4 linked regions of the Homo sapiens genome follow. The protein of the gene in region 4 purifies or fractionates together with the protein of the main gene of each other region. This does not show direct contact. Each region holds a gene or a part of one and is shown on either strand. Other genes may lie near its edges. The genes, in order: DOC2A, NCAPD2, NCAPG and GPR137B.

What was found.
Region 1: the proteins of GPR137B (region 4) and DOC2A purify together in Homo sapiens (affinity purification with mass spectrometry; 3 studies listed by BioGRID and IntAct, with this or other methods). This does not show direct contact.
Region 2: the proteins of GPR137B (region 4) and NCAPD2 purify together in Homo sapiens (affinity purification with mass spectrometry; 3 studies listed by BioGRID and IntAct, with this or other methods). This does not show direct contact.
Region 3: the proteins of GPR137B (region 4) and NCAPG purify together in Homo sapiens (affinity purification with mass spectrometry; 3 studies listed by BioGRID and IntAct, with this or other methods). This does not show direct contact.

Annotation. Positions count from the first base shown.
Region 1 is NC_000016.10:30,005,014-30,008,064, forward strand, and holds the end of DOC2A (double C2-like domain-containing protein alpha), read right to left. Parts: intron 2,287-3,051; coding exon 2,160-2,286; intron 2,078-2,159; coding exon 2,018-2,077; intron 1,936-2,017; coding exon 1,772-1,935; intron 1,665-1,771; coding exon 1,583-1,664; intron 1,497-1,582; coding exon 1,400-1,496; intron 1,319-1,399; coding exon 1,173-1,318; 3' UTR 501-1,172; downstream 1-500. Other genes in the region: INO80E (INO80 complex subunit E), read left to right, coding at 1-38. UniProt on the Homo sapiens protein: Calcium sensor which most probably regulates fusion of vesicles with membranes. Binds calcium and phospholipids. May be involved in calcium dependent neurotransmitter release through the interaction with UNC13A.
Region 2 is NC_000012.12:6,518,093-6,525,129, forward strand, and holds part of NCAPD2 (condensin complex subunit 1), read left to right. Parts: intron 1-2,893; coding exon 2,894-3,018; intron 3,019-3,705; coding exon 3,706-3,945; intron 3,946-4,735; coding exon 4,736-4,910; intron 4,911-5,169; coding exon 5,170-5,254; intron 5,255-7,037. UniProt on the Homo sapiens protein: Regulatory subunit of the condensin complex, a complex required for conversion of interphase chromatin into mitotic-like condense chromosomes.
Region 3 is NC_000004.12:17,813,977-17,821,013, reverse strand, and holds part of NCAPG (condensin complex subunit 3), read right to left. Parts: intron 6,162-7,037; coding exon 6,016-6,161; intron 5,741-6,015; coding exon 5,656-5,740; intron 3,754-5,655; coding exon 3,561-3,753; intron 3,076-3,560; coding exon 2,926-3,075; intron 1-2,925. UniProt on the Homo sapiens protein: Regulatory subunit of the condensin complex, a complex required for conversion of interphase chromatin into mitotic-like condense chromosomes.
Region 4 is NC_000001.11:236,145,510-236,152,546, reverse strand, and holds part of GPR137B (integral membrane protein GPR137B), read right to left. Parts: intron 1-7,037. UniProt on the Homo sapiens protein: Lysosomal integral membrane protein that regulates the localization and activity of mTORC1, a signaling complex promoting cell growth in response to growth factors, energy levels, and amino acids.

The sequences.
Region 1 (3,051 bases), on a different chromosome or scaffold from region 4:
TCACCTCTATCACCACCCCCAGGCACTTGCTGGTTTGAGGCTCTCGAGGGGCTGAGGGGGGCAGGCCCTGAGTGCAGCATGGGTTGGCCCAGCTGTGCCCAGGGCCTCTTCCCCCTCCCCAGAGCTGCCCTGGGGGGCAAAGCCTAGTCTCCTGAGGCCCCAGTGCCTCCCTGACTAGTCCCCCTGTGTTTCTTCCCCCTGCTGCAGATGGCGGTGGGACCCCCCGACTGCCCTGTGGGAGGGCCGCTGACCTTCCCTGGCCGGGGTTCTGGGGCTGGGGTCGGGACAACCCTGACCCCCCTCCCACCCCCTAAGATGCCCCCCCCCACGATCCTGAGCACGGTCCCTCGGCAGATGTTCAGCGATGCAGGTAGCGGGGACGATGCCTTGGATGGAGACGATGACCTGGTGATCGACATCCCGGAGTGACCGTGACATCACGCCATGCCCACCACGGCCCCGCCCGGCGCCCTCCCCGTGCCAGCACACACGAGTCCAGCTTCCTCGGAGGTGTTTATTGATGCCCAGCTGCCATGCTCCGGCCACTGACACAACCAGAAAAGGCGTAAACATGCACGGGTGTCCCCCAGGAGGGTGGCAGGGGCCCTGCCTTCAAACCCCGGCCCCCTCCAGGGGACAGTTATTTAAACGAGTGGCCGGGAGCATCTGCCACCTGCTGGGGAGGCAGAGACCCTGCAATGGCCACCTCTTTAAAAGGGCAGCTGTACAGGGCTAGGTTTTTTCAATGAAGTTTCTGTATTAAAGGAGTGGCTCTGGGTTTGTTTTTTGTCCTTTTTTTTTGAGACATTCTCCTCCTCTGAACCTCCCCTAATCCGACCTCCTCCCTGTTGGGGGAGAGGGACGGGGCAGCGTGGAGAGGCAGGAGTGAGGAGCGCGGGGGCCTGGGGCCGGGCTCTGAGCACTGCCCGGGTGTGCAGATGATGGGGGGTTTGCATATTTGCAGGGACTAGCGAGTCAGGCAGGAGGTTTGCATATGTGAATATAGAACTCCGCAGCCCCTCATGAGCAGACAGACCCGGGTCACGGAGACTCACAAAAATAGGTAGTGCAGGGTGGGGGCAGCCCACCCTGTGTAAACGTGCAACACACTCGTGCGAAGGTTGGGTACTGGACCCGGCTCGATGGGCCTGTGCCGGGACACTGCTGTCCACTCAGGCTGAGGACAGAGCCCCGGCCGCAGGGGGCAGCTCACTGGTCAGGGTGTGCCAGCGCTCCAGGGCTGCGTCCGGCTGCTGCAGGCAGTCACTCCAGTGCTTCCGAGCCTCGCCTCGGGCACCTGGCCCCAGGGACACGCCACCTGGGGAGCAGGTGGGCAGGGTCAGGGCCACCTCCCTGCCACTTGCCCGCCCTCAACACCCGCAGCCAGCTCCTCCCTCACCAATGAAGTCATTGGATTTGCCAATGTCATAGTCCCAGACGGTGACTTCCAGGGTCTTGGTGGCCAGAGTGGAGAGCTCTATCTCGTAGAAAAACTCCTAGGGACAAGGCCGGCCACCCGTTCGTGAGCCAGCTCCCCAGCCCCTCCCTGGCCTCCCTCCATGTCCCGTCCCCTCCTGGGTACCTCGTTAAATTCTGGGTTGAGAGTCTTCTTCTTCACACACGTCTTATGCTTGGATTTCTTGTCCACATCGGGCCTCAGGTACCTGGGGGTGGGGTGGAGGGAGACGAACTGAGGGGTGAGGGACAGGCCAGGCCCAACTCAGGCCAGGGCAGGCTCCCTGGGGAGGAGAGGGTCAGAGCAAGGGCTCACGTCTTGACGTAGGGGTCCGAGTAACCGTTGACGTCCATGGCAGCCAGATGGGCGCAGCGCAAGATGCCTACCAGCAGTCCCCGGCGCCGCGAGCTGTAGCTGAGACTCAGCAGGATGCGGCCACGCTCCTCCAGCAGCCCCTGCCCCTGCTCCGCCTGCTCCAACTGCGGGGCACAGACTCAGGGTCAGCCTGGGCCCCTGCAGCCTCCCACCCACATGCATCCCCATCCCCATGAGGTGCCTCACCTCCTTCAGATAACAGGAGATGCCCCTCAGCGCCGCTGACATGGAAGAGGGGGACGCCAGCTGAGGGGGCAAAGAGAAGGTTCTGGAAGCCTGGCCTCCCCAGGGCCCCCTCCCCTGGCGCCCCTGCAGCCCCCACACAGACCGGGACCTGGCGCTCGAGGCAGATGTTAAAATGCTTCTTCTGCGAAGGCTTGAGGCGGCGGAGGGGCACGCGGATCTCCCCAATAAACTCATTGTGACTCAGCTTGTCCTCATCACAGACGGCGATCCTGGTCGGGAACTGCAGTGTCAGGGCCCCTGGGGTACCTGAGCCCCGTTCCGGGGTGTAGGAAGGGCCTTGGACCAGCCCAGCTCTGCCCTAAACACTACGTCTCATCTGGAAGACAGGCTGGCACTTGAGAAGGACAAGCAGATTTGCCCATTCCTCTGTCCCTCCCTCTGCAGCCACCCGGCTGTCCCTGGTCCATCAGGACATGCTCAGCCATTGTGGGAAGCCCTCAGAAATCTTGGAGCACGCTGCTCACTGCCTCCATTCAGGGCCTGGGGGCAGGAGCCGAACACCACGGTGGATGTGGCCATAGACACAGGCCGTGAGAGCTAGAAGGGCCTTGGAGCCTTGGGCAGCCAGACCAGTACCCCACGCCTCCTCGGGAACCCCCGTCCTTTTCCTGCATGCAGCAGAGAGCCAGCCCCGCAGGGACTCACTAAGAAATGATTGCTTTCCAGCCACCTGTCCTCCTGCAGTCCCTGCCCTGCCTCCGCAGTGACCCACTACCAGGCTGGGCATCTGTGGCATGGAGGATGGGCAGATCCCAGCCCTGCCACTTCTGAGCCACCTGTGTGACCTTGGGCAAGTCACTTGATCACCCTATGCCTCAATTCCCATCTGTAAATGGAGATAGTCAAGGGAAAGAAAGAAATGTGAAAATGCTAAGCCTGGGCTGGGCCCTGGTGAGCGCTCATTTTTTGGTCTCATTCTGGTTTTGGCCTCTGGCCTCCCCTCCATTCCACCCGAATAGCTGAAACCAAGGTGG
Region 2 (7,037 bases), on a different chromosome or scaffold from region 4:
GTAGTAATGGTCTGACCATAGGCCTAGTCCACAATTAAGCATGTGTTTCTACTTTATAAATGTTTAAAAAAACTACTGAAACAATTAAATGTTAACAGTATTATAATCAAACATGAGTCCTCCTTCAATTGAAGAAGAGCACCTATAAATAAGTTCTAGTTGTATGATCTTGAATAAGTTGCTTAACTTTCTGTGCCTCGGTTTCATTATCTATAAAATAAGAAATTGATTAGATCTTATGATCTCTAAGGACTTTCTAATTCTAAATTTCATGAACTAATAATATCAAACATGCTTAATACTACCTTAATCTTCAAACCTAGTATGAATCCTGATCTTAGAGAAAAGATTTCTCCTAGTGTTTTTGTGACTCTAGAACTTAACAACAAAAGCCCTTACAGCCGTCAACAAGTTTTTTTTTTTTTTTTTTTTTTTTTTTTTTGAGATGGAGTCTCACTCACTCTGTTGCCCAGGCTGCAGTACAGTGACACGATCTTGGCTCACTGCAACCTCTGCCTCCCAGGTTCAAGCAATTCTCGTGCCTCAGCCTCCCAAGTAGCTGGGACCACAGGCGCGCACCACCACACCGCACTAATTTTTTTATTTTTAGTAGAGACAGGGTTTCACCATATTGGCCAGGCTGGTCTTGAACTCCTGACCTCAGGTGATCCACCCATCTCAGCCTCCCAAAGTGCCATGATTACAGGCGTGAGCCACCGCACTCGGCTGCCAACAAGTATTCTTAAACCTCAGCCACAAGTTATTTGTTATTTATTTACTTCTTACCTAATTGGGCTGAATTTTTTTTTTGGAGACGGAGTCTTGCTCTGTTGCCCAGGCTGGAGTGCAGTGGTGCGATCTTGGCTCACTGCAACCTCCACCTCCTGGGTTCACGCCATTCTCCTGCCTCAGCCTCCCGAGTAGCTGGGACTACAGGCGCCCGCCACCACGCCCGGCTAATTTTTTTTTTTATATTTTTAGTAGAGACGGGGTTTCACCGTGTTAGCCAGGATGGTCTCAATCTCCTGACCTCGTGATCCGCCTGCCTCGGCCTCCCAAAGTGCTGGGATTACAGGCTTGAGCCACCGTGCCCGGCTTGGGCTGTTTTTAGAAGGCTAGAGAGTGGCTTGTTTGCCCTATGACTCCCTTATGTTACTTTAGTGTCTCTCTTTTTATTTTGCTAAAGCAAAAATAGAGACTATAGTTTTATAAGTGCATGTTCCACCAAGCATTCTAGTATTTTCTCCTGTCAATTAGAAAAGGATTGTTTGTTTTTGAGACAGAATCTCACTGTTGCCCAGGCTGGAGTACAGTAGCGCAATCACAGCTCACTGCAGCCTCTCACTGTAGCCTCAACCCTGCTGGGCTCAAGCGATCTCCCACATTAGCCTCCTGAGTAGCCTGGTTAATTTATTTATAATTTGTAGCTGGGATTACAGGTACACACCACCAGGCCTGGCCTTTGCCAGCCTGGGCAACGTGGCAAGAAGATAACATGTAGACAAGCAGTCAAACATGTATTCTTTTTTTCCCCCTTTTATATGACTGATAGAATTCTCTGCCCACTGATCTACCATCTTGTTTTTTTCACTTAACTATGTGTCTCAGTGGTTTTTAAAAATATTTATGGCTGGGTGCAATGGCTCATGCCTGTAATCCCAGCTACTTGGGAGGCTGAGGCAGGAGAATTGCTTGAACCCAGGAAGCAGAGGTTGCAGTGAGCTGAGATTGCTCCGCTACACTCTACCCTGGGTGACAGAGGAAGAGTCCATCTCAAAAAAAAAAAAAAATTTATAGATGGCCAGGTGCAGTGGCTCACACCTGTAATCCCAGCACCTTGGGAGCCCAAAGCTGGTGGATCTCTTGAGGCCAGGAGTTTGAGGCCAGCCTGGCCAACGTGGCGAAATGGCGAAACCCATCTCTGCTAAAATTACAAAAATTGGCCAGGTATGGTGGCACGTACCTGTAATCCTAGCTATTTGGGGAGCTGAGGCATGAGAATCACTCAAACCTAGGAAGCAGAGGTTATAGTGAGCCAAGATCATGCCACTACACTTCAGCCTGGGTGACAGAACAAGACTCTGTCTCTAAAAAAAAAAATATATATATATATATACACATATATATTTATACATAAATAGTTTCCCACTCTCCTCTTTTTTTGAGAGAGAGAGTGTCTCACTCTTTTGCCCATGCTGGAGTACAGTGGTATGATCACAACTCACTGCAGCTTTGATCTCCCAGGCTCAAGTGATCCTCCCACCTCAGCTCCCTCGAGTAGCTGAGACCACAGGCACACACCATTACACCCACAGGCACACACCATCACACCCACAGGCACACACCATCACACCCACAGGCATACACCATCACACCCACAGGCACACACCATCACACCCGGCTAACTTTTTTTACTTTTTGTATAGTTGGGTCTCCCTGTGTTGCCCAGACTGATCTCAAATTCCTGGGCTCACGTGTCCCCATTATTTTTTATGACTACATAGAATCTTATTGTCTGGATGTGCCTGAATTAACTAATTATTGAAAGTTTATTGTTTCTAAACTTAGGAAAGTTTTTAAACAGGTGTTTGGAGTAGGTTTATGATTTTAAAACTTTAAAAAGCCTTATTGGAGTTTTTTTGAAGACTGTAGTAATGCCTTGTAGGTTCAGAAATAGGAAAAGTGTTTGCAGATGAGCAGTCAGGGGAAAAAAATAGGCAAAGTGTTTTGAGCCCTACCCCTTAGTAGGTGCTGTAACAACTTTTTAAGCATGTTAAGTGCTCCTTTTCTCTGGGCAGTAGGTCCAGGGACTTGATAGAATCATGAGGTAAGCTCCCTTACAAACGGCTGCAGTGACATTCTTCTGGGTACTGACAGGCTGGTGTTCTTTCAGAAAGGCCATCATTCTCACTCGAGAAGCCACAGGCCACTTCCAGGAGTCCGAACCCTTCAGTCATATAGACCCAGAGGAGTCAGAGGAGACCAGGCTCTTGAATATCTTAGGACTTATCTTCAAAGGTAATCATTTTCCTTCTTCAGTCAATAAATAACACATGTCAACTGGTATTTACTGAGCATTAACTTTATGCCATCATTGGCCTGGTTAACAGAACCTGGTGCTGAAGAGCCCAGAGATGAATTGGCATTACTTTTGCTCTGGAATGGAAGCAGCCCACGGGCCTAAGATTGATAGTCACAGGGTGACTGTCCAGACCATAGCGGTCTTTAGGTATGGTTTTTGAGAAATTTAGATATTTTAGAGTAAGTTTTAATTTCATATCTTCACATTGTGAAAAGAGATATCCAGGGCCAGATGTCGTGGCTTATGCCTGTAATCCTAACACTTTGGGAGGCCAAGGCAGGAGGATTGCTTGAGCCCAGGAGTTGAAAATCAGCCTGAGCAACATGACGAAACCCCCATCTCTACAAGGGATACCAAAAAAAAATTAGCCAGGTGCGGTGGCACGCACCTGTAGTCCCAACTGCTCAGGAGCTGAAGTGAGAGAATCACCTTAGCCCGGGGAAGTTGAGGCTGCAGTGAGCGGTGATCATTGCCACTGCACAGCCTAGGCAACAGAGTGAGACCCCATCTCAAAAGAAAAGAAGAAGGAAAATAAATAAGTAAATATCCAGGAATGTTGACAGCTGTTGGATTCCCCTGTATCCCCTTGAACGAAACCATCCTGTACTTCTCTAACTCCTTAGGCCCAGCAGCTTCCACACAAGAAAAGAATCCCCGGGAGTCTACAGGAAACATGGTCACAGGACAGACTGTCTGTAAAAATAAACCCAATATGTCGGATCCTGAGGAATCCAGGGGAAATGATGAACTAGTGAAGCAGGAGATGCTGGTACAGTATCTGCAGGATGCCTACAGCTTCTCCCGGAAGATTACAGAGGCCATTGGCATCATCAGCAAGATGATGTATGAAAACACAACTACAGGTATGCCAGAGTCCCTTTCTATAAGGACAGCCTTGGGGTTCTTTTGGATTTTTTAATTTTTTAAATTTTTATTAACAATAGAGATGGGGCCTTCCTTTGTTGCTCAGGCTGGTCTCCAACTCCTGGGCTCAGGCAATTCTTCTGCGTCAGCCTCCCAAAGTGCTGGTATTACAGGTGTGAGCCACTGCACCCGGCCATGGATCTTGGAGTTCTTTTCCATATTTTATTGATATATCTATCTGCTCCTTTAAAAGGCAGGGGTTCTCGGCTGGGCGCGATGGCTCATGCCTGTAATCCCTACAAAACTGGGAGGCCAAAGCAGGAAGACAGGTTGAGGCCAGGAGTTCGAGAGCAGCCTGGGCAACATAGCAAGACCCCATCTCTACAAAGAAACAAAAACTAACTGGGCGTGATGGCACGCACCTGTAGTTCCAGCTACTCGGAAGGCTGGGCAGGAGGATTGCTTGAGCCCGGGAGTTTGAGGCTACAGTGAGCTGTGGTCATGCCACTGCACTCTAGCCGGAGCAACAGAATAAGAACCTGTGTCTTAAGAAAAGAAAAAAAAAAGGCAGGGGTTCTTTTTTTCTGTTTGCTTCCTCTAGCCACTTACAGCTTATACATTTTAATGCATATAGTATTTCATGATAAGGCATCATAGGAGGAGTCGACATTCTCAGGGAAAATGCGGAAGGCCTCCATTTGCATCTTGCTACATTCAGAAAGGTTCTGTCGTTAGGTATTGGGGGAGTTTTGTGAAGTAGATAGGTGACATTTGTACATGTTCTCTCAGTGGTGCAGGAGGTGATTGAATTCTTTGTGATGGTCTTCCAATTTGGGGTACCCCAGGCCCTGTTTGGGGTGCGCCGTATGCTGCCTCTCATCTGGTCTAAGGAGCCTGGTGTCCGGGAAGCCGTGCTTAATGCCTACCGCCAACTCTACCTCAACCCCAAAGGGGACTCTGCCAGGTATATGGGGTGCTTTTGCCTTTGCTGACTTTTCCAAGGTCAGCTTCTCACAGGACTTCCCTTGTCTCCTAAAGGAAGAGGTGCATTTCTCCAGGGGAGTTCCAGATCCATAGGCAGTCCATCATAGTGGGGCTTAGGGTGGGGCTCGGTTTCCAGGGAGAGCAGTTTTGTAGCACTGTGGTGGGATAGCCCTAATCACTGTTTGCCAAGTTCAGCTTCCCAATCTTATAGTGACCGCTGATCTCTGCTGTTCCCACAGAGCCAAGGCCCAGGCTTTGATTCAGAATCTCTCTCTGCTGCTAGTGGATGCCTCGGTTGGGACCATTCAGTGTCTTGAGGAAATTGTAAGGCTTCCTGCTTTCTCTTTCTTTATTCATTCAACAAGTATTTTGGTTGTTTTTTTTTTTTTTTTTGAGACGGAGTCATGCCCCATTGCCCAGGCTGGAGTGCAATGGCACAATCTTGGCTCACTGCAACCTCCGCCTCCCAGGTTCAAGCAATTCTCCTGCCTCAGCCTCCCGAGTAACTGGAATTACATGCATGTGCCACCATGCCCGACTAGTTTTTTGTATCTTTAGTAGAGACGGGGTTTCACCATGTTGGCCGAGCTGGTCTCGAACCCTTGACCTCGTGATCCACCCGCCTCAACCTCCCAGAGTGCTGGGATTACAGGCGTGAGCCAAAGCGCCCGGCAACAAGTATTATTGAGTTATTACTATGTATTTAGCAATTTACTTAGCTCCAGAAAGAAGTATAAGACTATTTGCTTTCATGTTCCCAACTTTAAAGGAACCAACAGTCTAGTTGGTAGTGAAAAACCACAGAACATTTTTAGAACAATGCAGCAGGTAGATAATAAAGTGCCAGAATGAGTTGTACGGGTAATGGTTGTCATAGCAATAATAACAACCTCACTTATATGGTATTGAATATATGACAGGCACTCACACGTTACTCACAGTAACTTGTTTAATCCTCACGACAGCCCTGTGAGGTAGCATTATCTGCATTTTACAATGAGAAATCTGAGGCACAGAGAAGTTACTGAACTTGGCTGGTTACAGCTAGTTAGTGGCAAAGTTTGAGATTCAAACTCAGGCAATAAGAGCTCTAGAAAACATACTCTTAACTTCTGTGTTCTACTGAGGGATACAGAGTAGGAAAGAGAGCGGTTTGGGGTAGAATGGTCAAGGAAGCTTCCTGAAGGTGGTAGGACTTAAGCTGGGTCTTGAAAGATGAGTAGGATTTAGAGAATCAGAGCAAGGAGGGAGGGCATTTCAAACAGAACCCAAGAAAGAGCACAGTTCACATTGTAGAACAAAGAAGACTGTGTTCTGGTTCAAATTATCTGGAAAAGACCAGGCGCGATGGCTCACGTCTGTAATCCCAGCACTTTGGGAGGCCAAGGCAGCAGATTACCTGAGGTCTGAGGTCAGGAGTTCGAGACCAGCCTGGTCAACATGGCGAAACCCCACCTTTACTAAAAATACAAAAAAATTAGCCAGGTGTGGTGGTGGGCACCTGTAGTCCCAGCTACTTGGGAGGCTGAGGCAGGACAGTTGCTTGAACCCAGGAGGTGGAGGTAGCAGTGAGCCGAGATTGCGCCACTGCACTCCAGCCTGGGCGACAGAGGGAGACTCTGTCTCAAAAAAAAAAAAAAAAAAAAAAATCTGGAAAAGATAATAAAGTTGTGAATGTAGGTTGGAACTAAACTGTGGAAGTCCCTGAATGACTTCAGGAGTCTAGGACTTTAACTGTGTTAGCCAGGCACCCAGCATTTTAGTGAGACATTCTGCTTTGTAGCATTTGCATTGCGGGCACAGAGAGTGGAGGTGGCGCTGGGAAGCGTGCTCCTGCCAGCCACATTTTTCTCCTCACTGGGGAAAAGAAAAGAGCCTGGTGGTGGTGATTGGCCATGATGTCATAGGTCAGTTACCGGCAAAAGCCCTACAAGAGGCAGGGGAGAGCACCTGCAAACTGGGGTGCAACAGAAGGGACGTGGGGAAGCAGAGGCTGAGGAGACCAACCCATGGGAAGGAAGGCCCGTGGAGGCTGCTGCAGTGGGCAGTAACGAGGGGCTGGACTTGAGGATTGGAGAAATCACTGCAGAATGGGCTTAATGGAAGA
Region 3 (7,037 bases), on a different chromosome or scaffold from region 4:
TATAAAGACATTTATTATAATGAAGAGACCACTCAAGAAAGTATTTTAAAGTCTAAGAATTTATATTTAAGATGGCTTTCAACAAATTTTATTGTTGTCCCTTTTACTTACTCTAATTTGATAATCCTCATTTCCTCGTTTGCTCTTTAAGTGAGCACCTTGGTTAACCAAAATTGTTTCACATCAGAGTTCTTAGTCATTGAATCTACTGCCTAAAATATACAGTATGCCTGAAAACATATTCCTGAGATTATCAGGAAACAATTTTTCAATTTAATTTTGTTTCTGTACTCAAGTATACTAATCCCATCTAGTCATGTTCCTCCAAAAAGACACTCATTCTATTTTTTAGGTATTCTTTCAACAATCACTAAAATAAATTTCTGAAAGTTTTCTTTTTTTTGTTTTTTTTGAGACGGAGTCTTGCTCTGTTGCCCAGGCTGGAGTGCAGTGGCGCGATCTCGGCTCATTGCAAGCTCCACCTCCCAGGTTCACGCTATTCTCCTACCTCAGCCTCCCGAGTAGCTAGGACTACAGGCGCCTGCCACCACGCCCAGCTAATTTTTTTGTATTTTTAGTAGAGACGGGGTTTCACTATGTTGGCTAGGATGGTCTCGATCTCCTGACCTCGTGATCCACCGGCCTCAGCCTCCTAAAGTGCTGGGATTACAGGCATGAGCCACCGCACCCAGCCGAAAATTTTCCTCTTTAAAGGTGAAGAAAATAAGTCGAAGAGGTTAAAGTTACTTATTTCAAAACTAAGAGAGTGACAAAGGAAATGTTAATCCCTGACCTTTCAGAAGGGAGGAATCAAGCTTTTTACAAGTCACCTTCTGATGCTGTCCTTGAGGAAAACTCCTCCCCCTTTATGCCATTTAAATATTTAACATTTCCTCATATTTTCTTATATTTTCACTACCTTCTATAAACATCTTTTATATTTATATATATTATTAAACTTTGCCACAAACTCATTCCTTTTGGAAACATTTCAACATGGCCCAAACAGCATTATAATGAATTCCCTACTTAAATGTCAAAGTCTGAAATAATTAACATTAAAATGCTCATTAGATTCACACAGGTTCTTCATGATGTTAACATGGGCTTGAGCTATAGTTTCCCTACTGGCTCACATTTGAGATACTTATCCTAGATTTAGGATTTTTGAGGGGAAATTTAGAGGCATGCACAGCTTTGCTGCCTAACTTTTATGTGAGATCATTTTAAACAAAAGCAGAGAACTGTACTTCATACAGATAATTCAGGTCCATAATTCATATTATATGGAAGCTTTTTTAAAAAAATACATCAGGCTGGGCGCTGTGGCTCACGCCTGTAATCCCAGCACTTTGGGAGGCCAAGGCAGGCAGATCACGAGGTCAAGAGATTGAGACCATCCTGGCCAACATGGTGAAACCCCATCTCTACTAAAAATACAAAAATTAGCTGGGCATGGAGGCGCGTGCCTGTAGTCCCAGCTACTCAGGAGGCTGAGGCAAGAGAATCGCTTGAACCCGGGAGGCGGAGGATGCAGTGAGCCGAGATTGCACTATTGCACTCCAGCCTGGCGACAGAGCAAGACTCCGTCTCAAAAAAAAAAAAATAAACCATAAAGTTGAAGTTAAAAACCTACATACCAATATCTATCAAAATATACATATATTATCCTTTGGTGTAGCAACTTATTTCTTGGAATTAACCCCCAAAAATCCCAAAGGTACCCAAAAATGTAAAGGAAATTTAACATACTTTTGCTTTTATCAGTGAAAAATGGAAACATCCTAAATGTCCATCAACAGAGGAATAAATTAAATGTTACCACCATACTACGGAATGATATGCTGTTAAGACTGTAACAGTATCTATTACATTATATATGCACCAATATATAATGATCTCAGTTATCAGTTGAAAAAAAAAGTATATACACAGTGTTATATTTTTAAAGAAACCTGTACTCAAAAAATGTATATAAATGCAGAGAAAGAGGTTTGAATATACACCCTATATTGTTTAGTTGCTAATTCTAAGGGTTGCTAGAATATACACTTAGTTGCTAATCAATGGGATTGAGGAAGTAGGAAATAAAAGAGGGAATTCCACATTTTTATTCCTTATACCTCTGTATTTGAATTTTGACAAGAATGCATTCATGTTTTTCTTGTATAATTTTAAAGTGAAATAAAGTAATCCAAATAATTTCTTAAGAGGTATAATTATGGTAATCCAAATTGTTTTTTAAAAAGGCATATTTTGAAAAAACTTTAAAACATGAAGCTAGATAGTAAGTTTTTAATAAATAAAACTGGCCACAAAGATCCACGCTGTGAATTGGAAAACAATGTTCCGTGCATCAAATCCAGCCTATTACCTGTTATATAGCTTGCAAGCTAAGACTATTTTAAATTTTTAACTGATCATTTTTTAAAATTTCTTATTTTGTTAACACATGAATATTAAAGTTCAACTATTTAGTGGCCATAAAAGTCAATAAAAGTTTTATTGAAAAACAGTTACTTACATTGTCTTTGGCTGCTTTTACAATACCATGGCAGAGTTGAGTCATTGTGACAGACGGTATGGCCCACAGGACCCTAAGATATTTATTATCTGACACTTAACAGAAAATGTGCCAACCAATTTCAGAAATAATATATCATCATCATCAACTTTATGCAGAAATGGTCATAATCATATCTTAACAGTTTTGAAGAAATGATCCTAAACATAGTGACTTGCTCTTTCAGTATACAGACCAGCACAAGATATTCAAAAAGACTCGATGTATATAACTATCCCTACATGTACAAAAAAAGGATTTTTAACATATTCACAATCAAACATGACTTTGAGGAAGGGGACTGGGAGATTGACACATGCAGCAACACAATCACTCTCCAAACTAAAAGAAAAAAAATTTACCTCAATAAATAGTCTGCATATACTACAGGCTCTGGCAAAATCTGCTCTAAAAATTCTTCACCTTCATCTCCTTTTGATTTCAAATATTCACAAAGGGCACACCAATACAAAGCAATTTCAGGAGTTAATGTTTCCACTGGAATCAATTTCCTTCATTTAAAAGAAAGAGTGTGAGAGAAAGCATGATCTTTTTATCATTAAGAATTGAAGAGTACAAAAATGAGAATAATAAGATTTGCTTTAAAACCACTACACTATCCTTTTAATTAGAGTCATTAATGTATCCACACAAAAAGGAATGAAGAAACTTAGAACAAAAAAGAACCAAATAAGCAAACATATACTAGGGGTGCATGTTGCTGGATTTTCTCATGGTAGGCTAATTCAAAAATCAAAGTAAGAAACTGAAGGGGGGAAAAGCATAGCTAAAGTAGATAGTCTATGATAAAGTTATGAGTTCTTACACCAGGAGGGGAAAAAGGAAGGATAAAAGGATATTCATCAGACTAAAAGAAAACAAAAGAGAGTTAAGATTAAAGGTATTAATATAATCTTAAGCTATGGGGAGGAAAAAAAACAAATTAATTGCACAAGTTAATCAGTACTACATTTCAAAGAATGAATCCTTTATGTACCTGCCATCATTGTTTTTACAGAGTCCCACCAGTTCACTGAGAGGAGTTATTGAAAACAAGGCATTGAGAACAGAGACTGCCACTTCAGAAGAATTTTCTACATCCAACCGATGGAGCAACTCTAAGATATTTCCTTCAGAGAACCGTAACCAGCCTTGAAGAAGATGCTTCTGCATAGCTTGTTTCACAGCATCTATTGAGTCATTTGAAACATAGGTGAACAAAGGCTCCCTCTAGCTTCCATCTCTTGTATTTTGTCTGTTTTAATTAACAAAGTCAGTATTTACAATAGAAATAGTAGAGGTTAAGAGGCACAACTAAGCATGTATATATATATTTTTTGAGACAGAGTCTCGCTCTGTCACCAGGCTGGAGTGCAGTGGCACGATCTTGGTTCACTGCAACCTCCACCTACCAGATTCAAGCGATTCTCCTGCCTCAGCCTCCCGAGTAGCTGGGACTACAGGCATGCGCCACCACGCCCAGCTAATTTTTGTTTCACCATGTTGGCCAGGATGGTCTCAATCTCTTGACCTCGTGATCCGCCTGCCTCGGCCTCCAAAAGTGCTGAGATTACAGGTGTGAGCCATAGCGCCCAGCCAACTAAGCATATTAAAGGTAAAAAAAAAGAAGTACCATGATACTGCAAAAGTCACTGTAATGGTCACTTACAAATAAAAATGGAAAAGGTTCAGCACCAAATACCACAGCCTACAAAAATATCTTTACATTCCTTCTCCCCTGGGTTCAATGGGCTTCAGGTGTTAGCCCAGAATATGTAATAGCTATTATCTCACTTGTTATCTGATTTTATCTATTACACGATTGCTATTTGCAGTAGTGAACTATACAAGCACACGTCACTGAACAAACCTTAGTCTTAGCTTTTAAGGTCATCCTACTAATTAGTCCTCTGACAATGTTTTCAAACGCAAGTCGGTTTTCTCACTACAGCGCAATAGAGCCATCTTGGCCTTCTCATGAGAGTTAAAAACTTCAAAAAATATCATTCCTATAAGCAGATTCTCTCAGGCTCCCCAACCCCTGGGCCACGGACTAGTACCAGTCTGTGGCCTGTTAGGAACCGGGCCGCACAGGAGGAGGTAAGCCGTGGTCTAACGAGCATTACCACCTGAGCTCTTCCTACTGTCAGATCAGCAGATGCATTAGATTCTCTCAGGCGCAGGAACTCTATTGTGAACTGCGCACATGAGGTATCCAGGTTGCACGCTCCTTATGAGAATCTAAGTAATGCCTGATGATCTGAGGTGGAACAGTTTCATCTGGAAACCATCCAGCCCGCCCTCTGTGGAAAAACTGTCTTCCATGAAATCGATCCTTGGTGTCAAAAATGTTGGGGAACTCTACTCTAACAGAAAAAAAAAAAAATAAGAAAATTATACTGGTCTGACCATTCCTATTTGTTGTTTCTGATACACAGAACACATTCATACCAAAGTATACACATAAGGAACAGCATTTTTTTTTTAAGTCAGAGAGAGAGGGCAAATAGATCTTTTCCTACTTCTGACATGAATTAGCTCTACAGACTTAAGTATTGTTTCTCCATCTGTAAAATACAGAAAGGGTGAAAGAAATAAGCTCTGCTCCTTCAAAATACCAAGATCTTGGCCAGACGCGGTGGCTCACACCTGTAATCCCAACACTTTGGGAGGCTGAAGTAGGTGCATCACTTGAGGTCAGGAGTTCGAGACCAGTCTGGCCAACATGGTGAAACCCCGTCTCTATAAAAATATAAAAATTAACCAGACATGGTGATGTTCACCTGTAATCCCAGCTGCTCAGGAGGCTGAGGCAGGAGAATCGCTTGAAACTAGAAGGCAGAGGTTGCAGTGAGCCAAGATTGCACCACAGCACTCCAGTCTGGGTGATAGAGTGAGACTCTGTCTCAAAAATATATATATATCAAAATCTTTAGCCCTGTGTTTTCTATATAATACATCAAGATAAATTTCACCAGGTTCATGGGACTGGCAGGCTTACTTGACCTGATTTGACACTCGTTTCTTAAACCTTGTTAAGTCTGACCTCAAAATCTACTAAAGTTTTGTATATATAAAGTTGTTTATCTTACCTGATCTGTCATTAAGACCTTGTTGAAGGAGCATTACTCTCTGAGCAATGGACATAGCTCTCATATGAACCTTTTCAGCTAAAACCTTAAAAATAATTTATAAAGATGGTCATTAACCTCAACACAATTTATAGATTTCATAAGAATATCACCATCTTAGAAAATTACCCAGAATCTCCAAAAGAAATTAATACCTGGTAACATACTTAATACAGTAAGATTCTACCTAAATTACCTGTGTTCTCCATAAAACCTCAACTGAAGAAATTATTACATGCCAAGTATTTTTCAAAGGCACTTTAAGAAAATGGCTCCTTGTCCTTTAAGAATATGCCAACACAAGACATTGAACTTATTTACCTGATAAGCCAGCTTTCTGACAGCCTCTTTCACATCCTTGGTGCGCCCTACAATTTTTGGCAAAGTCTTTGCTGATGGTGCAATACATGATAACACTGCCCGTCTAACTTCTGGATTTGAATCATTTTCAATCAAAGTAGCATATGCTAAAAATAAAGCAATACATTTTAGTACTGATGAAATTATTTATTTAACTACAGTCATAAAATAACACACATTTTGATATTTTAAAATGCCTTTAATGTGATAAAGATAGGCTGGGCATGATGGCTACTGCCTATAACCAGCACTTTGGGAGGCCAAGGTAGGTGGAGAGCTTGAAGCCAAGAGTTCAAGACCAGCCTGAGCAATATAGAAAGACCCCTGTCTCTACAAAATAATTTTAAAATAAAAAATTAGCTAGGCATGGTAGTGGCGCTTCCAGTTACTTAGGAGGCTGAGGTGGAAGGATCACTTAAGCCCAGGAGTTTGAGGCCACACCTCTGCAATCCAGCCCGAGTGAGAACCCATCTGTAATAGAAAGTAATGTCATTTTTTTAGTCTCACATATTTTAGTTGAAGTTTTTTTCCCACCAACTTCCTTCTTTTTCTTTTTTTTGGAGACAAGGTCTCACTATGTTGCCCAGGTTGGAGCCAAAGTGCTGAGATTACAGGCCTGAGTCACTGCTGCGCAGGCCACCAACTTCCCTTCTAAAGACACAAGGGGGAATTAGTCAACGGACTGGCTCTTAGGCCAAAAGTGAAAACAAATAGCCCTAAAAGTCACAGAAAATTCATCATTAAGATTATGTCTGTGCTACTCCTCAATATTTAAGAGAAAGCTTACTATAGCAGACAGTTTATTTTAAACTGATATGGCTTTATAAGGGCCCATTATTTTGGTTTTTAATGAGACCTAAAAGGAAATATTTTTTGGTTTTATTCATTGAAACAAACCCATTTCTTATATTTAAATATATTTATCTGTACTTCTCACATCTTTCCTACCTCAATTATTAAGTACAGGTTGACTATCAAATACC
Region 4 (7,037 bases):
ACCTCAGATGATCCACCCGCCTCGGCCTCCCAAAGTGCTGGGATTACAGGCATAAGCCACTGTGTCCAGCCCCAATACATTTTTTTGAGACAGGTCTCGCTCTATCACCCAGGCTAGAATGCAGTGGTGCGATCTCAGCTCACTGCAGCCTTGACCTCCCAAGTTCAAGCAATCCTCCCACCTCAGCCTCTTGAGTAGCTGGGATTACAGGTGCATGCCACTATGCTTGGCTAATTTTTTAATTTTTTGTACAGATGAGATCTCACTATATTGCCCAGGATAGTCTTGAACTCCTGGGCTCAAGCGAACCTCCTGCCTCGTCCTCCCAAAGTGTTGGGATTACAGGTGTAATTCACCACACCCAGACAATACAATTTTTTTAATTTAAAAAAAAACACCTGTTGAATAAATGAAATGAATCGCCATGTTCCAGTTGAACTTTATGTTGCTTTGTGAAAGCTGGGAGGACGAGGCCCTCTCGCATGGATAGATGTGTGCTGTCTTCCCAGAAAATGAGTGTGGGCCTGATGGGGCCAGGCTCACGGCACGCCAAGGTTGCTCACACCCTGCCCACTTCCCTCCTTATCTGCCACCACTCATGCACTAAAAATGGACCGTCACACAGCCTGATGGGACAACATGACCTCTGACAGCTACAAAGAAGCTGTGGCAGCAGAGTCCAAGGTGACAGGGAGAGTAGCCTATGGGGTGGGAGCAGCCCACAGAGCCAACCCCACCGTGTATGGGGGTTTTTTCACCCTGTGTTTTGCAGACTGCGTAGCTCAGCCTCGCAAGTGTGTATGCCATTTAAAAATCGAGGAGGGAGGCCGGGCGCAGTGGCTCACGCCTGTAATCCCAGCACTTTGGAAGGCCGAGGCAGGCGGATCATGAGGTCAAGAGATCGAGATCATCCTGGCCAACATTGTGAAACCCCGTCTCTACTAAAAATACAAAAATTAGCTGGGCATGGTGGCGGGCACCTGTAGTCCCAGCTACTCGGGAGGCTGTGGCAGGAGAATCACTTGAACCTGGGAGGCAGATGTTGCAGTGAGCCGAGATTGCGCCACTGCACTCCAGCTTGGCGACAGAGCAAGACTCTGTCTCAAAAAAAAAAAAAAAAAAAAAAAATGAATATGCAACAGAGACCATATGTGGCTCACAGGCCTAAAATCCTGACCCACATAAGCTTGAGGTAATCAACCCACTTGCAGAGTAAAACCATTTGGGCTTCATCTGTCCTTATAGGTTAATGGACTCTAAGCTTCAGCTGCAGGAAACATAAAAAGTGAAATATTTATGAGCCTCTGCAGCCCTCGGGGAATGCCTGTTGTCCCAGGTACTGTCTAAACAGTCTGCTGGGGCTATTTCTGTACTGAGAGAACTGGCCGGCCAAAATGTCAGGACCCAGACAGACCTTCCAACCAGGAACCAGCTTTCTTCTTCTCACTGGAAACGCAAGGCCAACAGGAACAGCCTGACAAAAGCGGCTCTTGGGATCACATGACTTTGTTGTTTGCAAAACCCTAAGACGCTTGCAGTGAGATTTTGTAGAGGGTCTTGGATCTTGCAAATGTTCCTCTCTGGGCAGCCCACCCCTCACTGTCATGACCCCTGCCCTCCACTCCCCGCCACTCAACGCTGAGCAGCTAGCCTGGGGCTCAGAGGGTGGGCACAGCAGCAGCGGGACAGCCATGGCTGGGCCCTGGAACTCCACTGAGAACCTGCACTAGCCTCAGGACAGTGCTCCGGCCCTGCCTCCCTGCTGGTCACTACCAGTTCTGCCTGTCTGACTACGGAAAGGCAGGTGAGCAAGAAGCCGTAGCAAAGCCTGCAGGTGCCACAGTGTTCGGAGCCGACAGTAGGGCGCTCCTGATGGTGACCCGGCAGCAGCCTCAGCCCAGCCTCTGCTGTGGGGAAGTCCAGGCTTCCTGCATGGTCACTGGGGTTGGATGCTGAATGTGCTGTGAGGGGCCTAATTGTTCCCCGAGTGCTGAGGGCATTAACAGGATTTAGTTCCCCCTCGGTTGGCAGGGCATCACCGAGGCACTGATGCGGTCACAGCCTCAGCTGCAGAGAGAAGAGCACGCTGCCATGGCTCGAGGAGAGGGCTCGGGAAACTGGGCTGTATGTTTAGAAAGTGGCCTGCGGGAGGTGCTGGGGGTGAACGGCAGACCAAGAAAATAAGGAAACCTTTCCACACACACAGGCACACACATGCACAGACACACACACAGGCACATACACACAAACACAGGCAAAGACACACACAGGCACAGACACACACAAACACAGGCACACACACGGGCACAGACATACACAGGCACACACAGGCACAGACACACACACAGGCACACAGACACACACAAACACAAACGGGCACACACATGCACAGACACAAACAGAGGCACACACACAGGCACACGCAGGCACAGACATACACAGGCACAGACACACACATGCACAGACACTCAGAGACCCACACAGACACAGGCACACAGAGGCAGGCACACACACACACAGGTACACACACAGGCACACACACAGGCACACATACACAAACCCCACACACACACAGGTGCACACAGGCACACACGCATATGCACATACACACACAGGTGCACGCAGCCACACGTGCACAGGCACACATGTACATACACACAGGTGCACACAGGCACACATGCACATACACATACAAAGGCGCACACCTAGGTGCACACACAACTCTGGCTGGCCATGAGCCCACTGAGCTAGCTCCGCAGGGAGCCGGTGCCAGGGGCTGAGGCCATGGGCGCAGGGCCCAGAGGCCAGGCTGAGCACAGTCCTTGCCCTTGGCCCGCCTTGTCTGTTTCCTAAGCCTCTTACTTCTTTACAATCACCAAAAGGCCTAGAAGCTTCCCTCTTCACAACTCCTAGACTAGGGCCTGCCACACGACAGGTATTTGATAAACACGTCTTGACTAAACTGACCGCCAAGAGCCACAGCCGAAGCCCCTTACTCCTACAATCACCCACGTCCCTTTCCTGGTGAGCACGGAGGACTAGTTCCTGGATTCGACTTTTAGGGGCCTCTTAGTTCCCTACCAGCAAGAATGAGGACTATGACCCACTTCAAGTCAGAGTGTGGCGTCTGTAGCAAGCACGGATCGGTCAGCCTGAAACACGGGACTTGTCCTGCCTCTGCACGCCTGGCTGGGCTGCCTGGGAGAATTTCCTCCTCTGGTCGGCTCATCTGCAAAGGAGGGGCTGGGCTGCTGGACCCCCAGTGCCTTCTGCTCTCATGTCAGGCACTGCGATTAGGCTTGCCACATGCTCCCTACGGGTGCGCCAAGAGTCACCACCGTTTTACAAACAGAAAAGCTGCTGTTTGGTGGAAAAGTAATTTTGATGGCACAGTAGGCTGGAAAAGGGCAGGGTCAGCCCGGGGACCTGACCTTCAGGACAGTGGCTGGGTGTCGAAGCAAGAGCCTAGGTTCAGAGCTGTAGGCAACACACAGTGAGAATCTCAACTAAGGGAGGAGAGGAGCAAAGGGATTCAGGACACACGGCATCTCCTTTAACCCACTCCGACCCATGGGATGAGTATTACAGTTTCTGTCTCCCTGGTGAAGCAGCAGCCTTAGAGAGGTGGTAACCAGCCATGGGACCCACACTGGAGGCAAAGCCCGGATTGGAACCCAGATCTGCACCCAGGGACCCTGCTCCTTCACTCCCAGGGCTGCCTCCTCATTCATAAGGCTTTGCTGGCCTAGTGCCCATGATGAGCTCCCAACACCGACTATGAGCCCCTACCATGAGCCGCAGGCCCTCACCACGAGCCCCTGGCACCATCCCACAGGACCACATGACTCACGAACCATCCCTGCTGCAGCTGAGTGGAGGGTGTGGAAGTCCCTAGCTGAGTTTCAGAACAGAACAGACCAGACCCCGATAAATGTCAGCTTCCCATCTGCCCTCCAAGGCATGGTGACGTCTCAGGTCTCAGTTCCCACATCAGTGTCCATTCATCACAGCACCTCTCCCCATGGAGAGAACTCGCTTCTCCATTTCCTTCCGCAAACCATGTGACTGCAATGGCAGGAGTTTGTCATAGGGCCCAAGACAAAGCTGAACCAGCCTGTTCCATCCTGCCAAACTCGGGAATCTGGAGAGTCTGAGTTCCAGGCTGGGAATTCCGAGGAAGAAGGGCTGGGATACGTGGCTGCCGAGGTGTCACCGAGCCCACCGCCACATCAACTTCTGCCCCTGCAGGGCACAGACCTGTCTGCCCAGGAGCTGCCTGGGCACAGAAGCTACCGCCTTTGCTTCTGAGCCTCTATCCTGAAACCTGGAGGTAGAAGGCACCATAATTCCTCATGAGCAGAGACCCCTGCCTGCCTTAGGTTTCAGAGTCCTGCCCCTCTCCTAAGTCCCCACTAAAATGGTGATTTGACACAGCGCTTAGAACAGGCTCTGAGTCAAAGGCCTTGGTGCAAAGCCTTGGTCCCGCCACTTCCTCATGCAGCCGGGAGCAGAAGCTCAGCTGTTCCCCAAAGCTGGCACAAGGAGCCACAGCTGGAAACAACAGGTAGTCAGCACTCCATGTTCCAAACATTTGGGGCCAGACAGACACTGCATACAGACGGCCCGGAGAGAGTTAGCAGAACCAGTCCTACCACAGCCGCCTCCCCATGTTCCCAGGCTGAACTGGAAGGTGGAGAGTGGAGATGGAGAAAAAGAGTTAACAGCCTGCTACCAGCAGGGCACCTCACCCCAGGTCAGAAAGGAGAAAGACACATGGACACTGCTCACAGGGATTGGGCAGGAAGGGGGCCCGGGCAGATGCTTGCTGAGCTGGGACTGTTTGCAGGTGGAGTCCCGGTGGAGCCTGACCTGTGCCCTGGTGATCTGGAGGCACCAGGCACTTGGAGGGTGATGCTTGCTTCCACCTGGGATTTTTACAGGTGGGAGGGCCCCTAGGCACGCAAGGAGTGAAAAGCAGCCAGGTGCAGGGTCCTGAAGACGCTAGTTAGGCATCCAGCCTGTCACCCATGTGGCCAAGTGGGAGTGGAGGGGCCTCAGTGATCCCATGGCTTTCTAAGAAAAAGCCCTAAAAGGGCTTTTCGAAAAGGGGCCTAAAGCCATGTGGCTGCCCCCTGAAGAAGGAATTGGGATGGAAGGGAGACCAAAGATGGGGCTAGGAAGAAGCTGAAGTCCATCATGTCAACATGGCCACGTGGCAGTTACCCACAGAGGCGGCGCCAGAGCAAGACCAGAGGCCGACACGCTGGCAGTCACGAGAGAGTGTGCCCCTCCCCTGGGCTGCCTGGGAAGATGGAAGGGGAGAGGCTGAGAGCATGGGCACACCCTCTGCACCAAGCCCTGCAGCTCGAAGCCTGGCTGGCCTTGGACAGTGTGGGAGAAGCTTTAAATCAGACGTAAAGATTTAATAAAGGAGTATGGGCCAGGCACAGTGGCTCACGCCTGCAATCCCAGCACTTTGGGAAGCCGAGGTAGGCAGATCACCTGAGGTCAGGAGTTCAAAACCAGCCTGGCCAAGATGGTGAAACCCTGTCTCTACTGAAAATACAGAAATTAGCCAGGCGTGGTGGCGCACACCTGTAATCTCAGCTACTAAGGAGGCCGAGGCAGGAGAACTGCTTGAATCTGGGAGGCGGAGGTTGCAGTGAGCCAAGATCACACTACTGCGGCCTGGGTGACAGAGCCAGACTCCAAAATAATAATAATTACCGAGTATGACTAGAAAGCCATAGGATCTGCCTGAGAGGTCATTAGGGGTGGAAAGAGACTTAACATGGCAGAATTTAAAAGCAGTGATTTAGGGGTAAGTTAATCAAATTGAGCTTGCTCATGATCGCATTACCCTCAGATGTGTACCCAAGGGCAGCCGGGGCTGCGTACTGCAGCATCGTGTGCATTGCACGGAGGCTCGGACGGGGCAGTGTGGGCAAGTGTTCTCACCCCTCCGAGCCTCAGTTGGGGGGTAACAGTACCCTCTGGGTCACCAGGGAGGGTGAGATGAGTAAGGCCCAGGTACAGGGACCCTGCAAAAGCACAAAGGACTGACAACAACAGAAAAAAGCTTCCTCCCCATCTCGGACCTCTCCTTCCAGTTCATTCCCAATTCCCAAACTGCCCCCACGACTTCCTTCCCACCATCCTCTCTTCCTCCCCACCCAGCTTCAGCCTCCAGACACCTGCTTCTTCTCAGAGGACTCATGTCTCATTCAAGTCTCCTGACGCTTCAATAACCATTCCCTTCAGTGCCGCAAATCGTGCCTTAACTGTGCTGTATGTATACTTTGATTCTCTGCAACCTGATTTTGCGCTCCAGGAGAACACGAGGTTAGATTTAGAGTTGGGTATGTTTTCCCATTGTTAAGAGGTTTCATGGCCAGGCGCGGTGGCTCACACCTGTAATCACGGCACTTTGGGAGGCCGAGGTGGGCAGATTACTTGAGGTCAGGAGTTTGAGACCAACCTGGCCAACATGGCAAAACTCCATCTCTACTAAAAATACAAAAATTAGCCAGGTGCAGTGGCAGGTGCCTGTAATCCCAGATACTCGGGAGGCTGAGGCAGGAGAATCGCTTGAATCCAGGAGGCAGAGGTTGCAGTGAACCCAGATCACCACAAAGCAAGGCTCTATCTCAAAAAATAAAATAAAAAGAGGTTTCACATACTGTACATAAAAGACAAACCTCACACTCAGACAGCACAGATGTGTGTTGAATCCCAGCTCCACCATGCACTGACAGTGTGACCTTGAGCAAGTCATCTACGACCTCTCAGCCTCAGTTTCCTCCTCTGGAAAATGGGGACAATACCGGTACTTTCTTCAGAGAGTTCTGGTAAAAATAAATATAACCAATTGCTTAGAAGTGTGCTTTCTTGGCCGGGTGCGGTGGCTCACACCTGTAATCCCAGCACTTTGGGAGGCCGAGGTGGACAGATCACAAGGTCAAGAGATCAAGACCATCCTGGTCAACATGGTGAAACACTGTCTCTACTAAAAATACAAAACTTAGCTGGGCATAGTG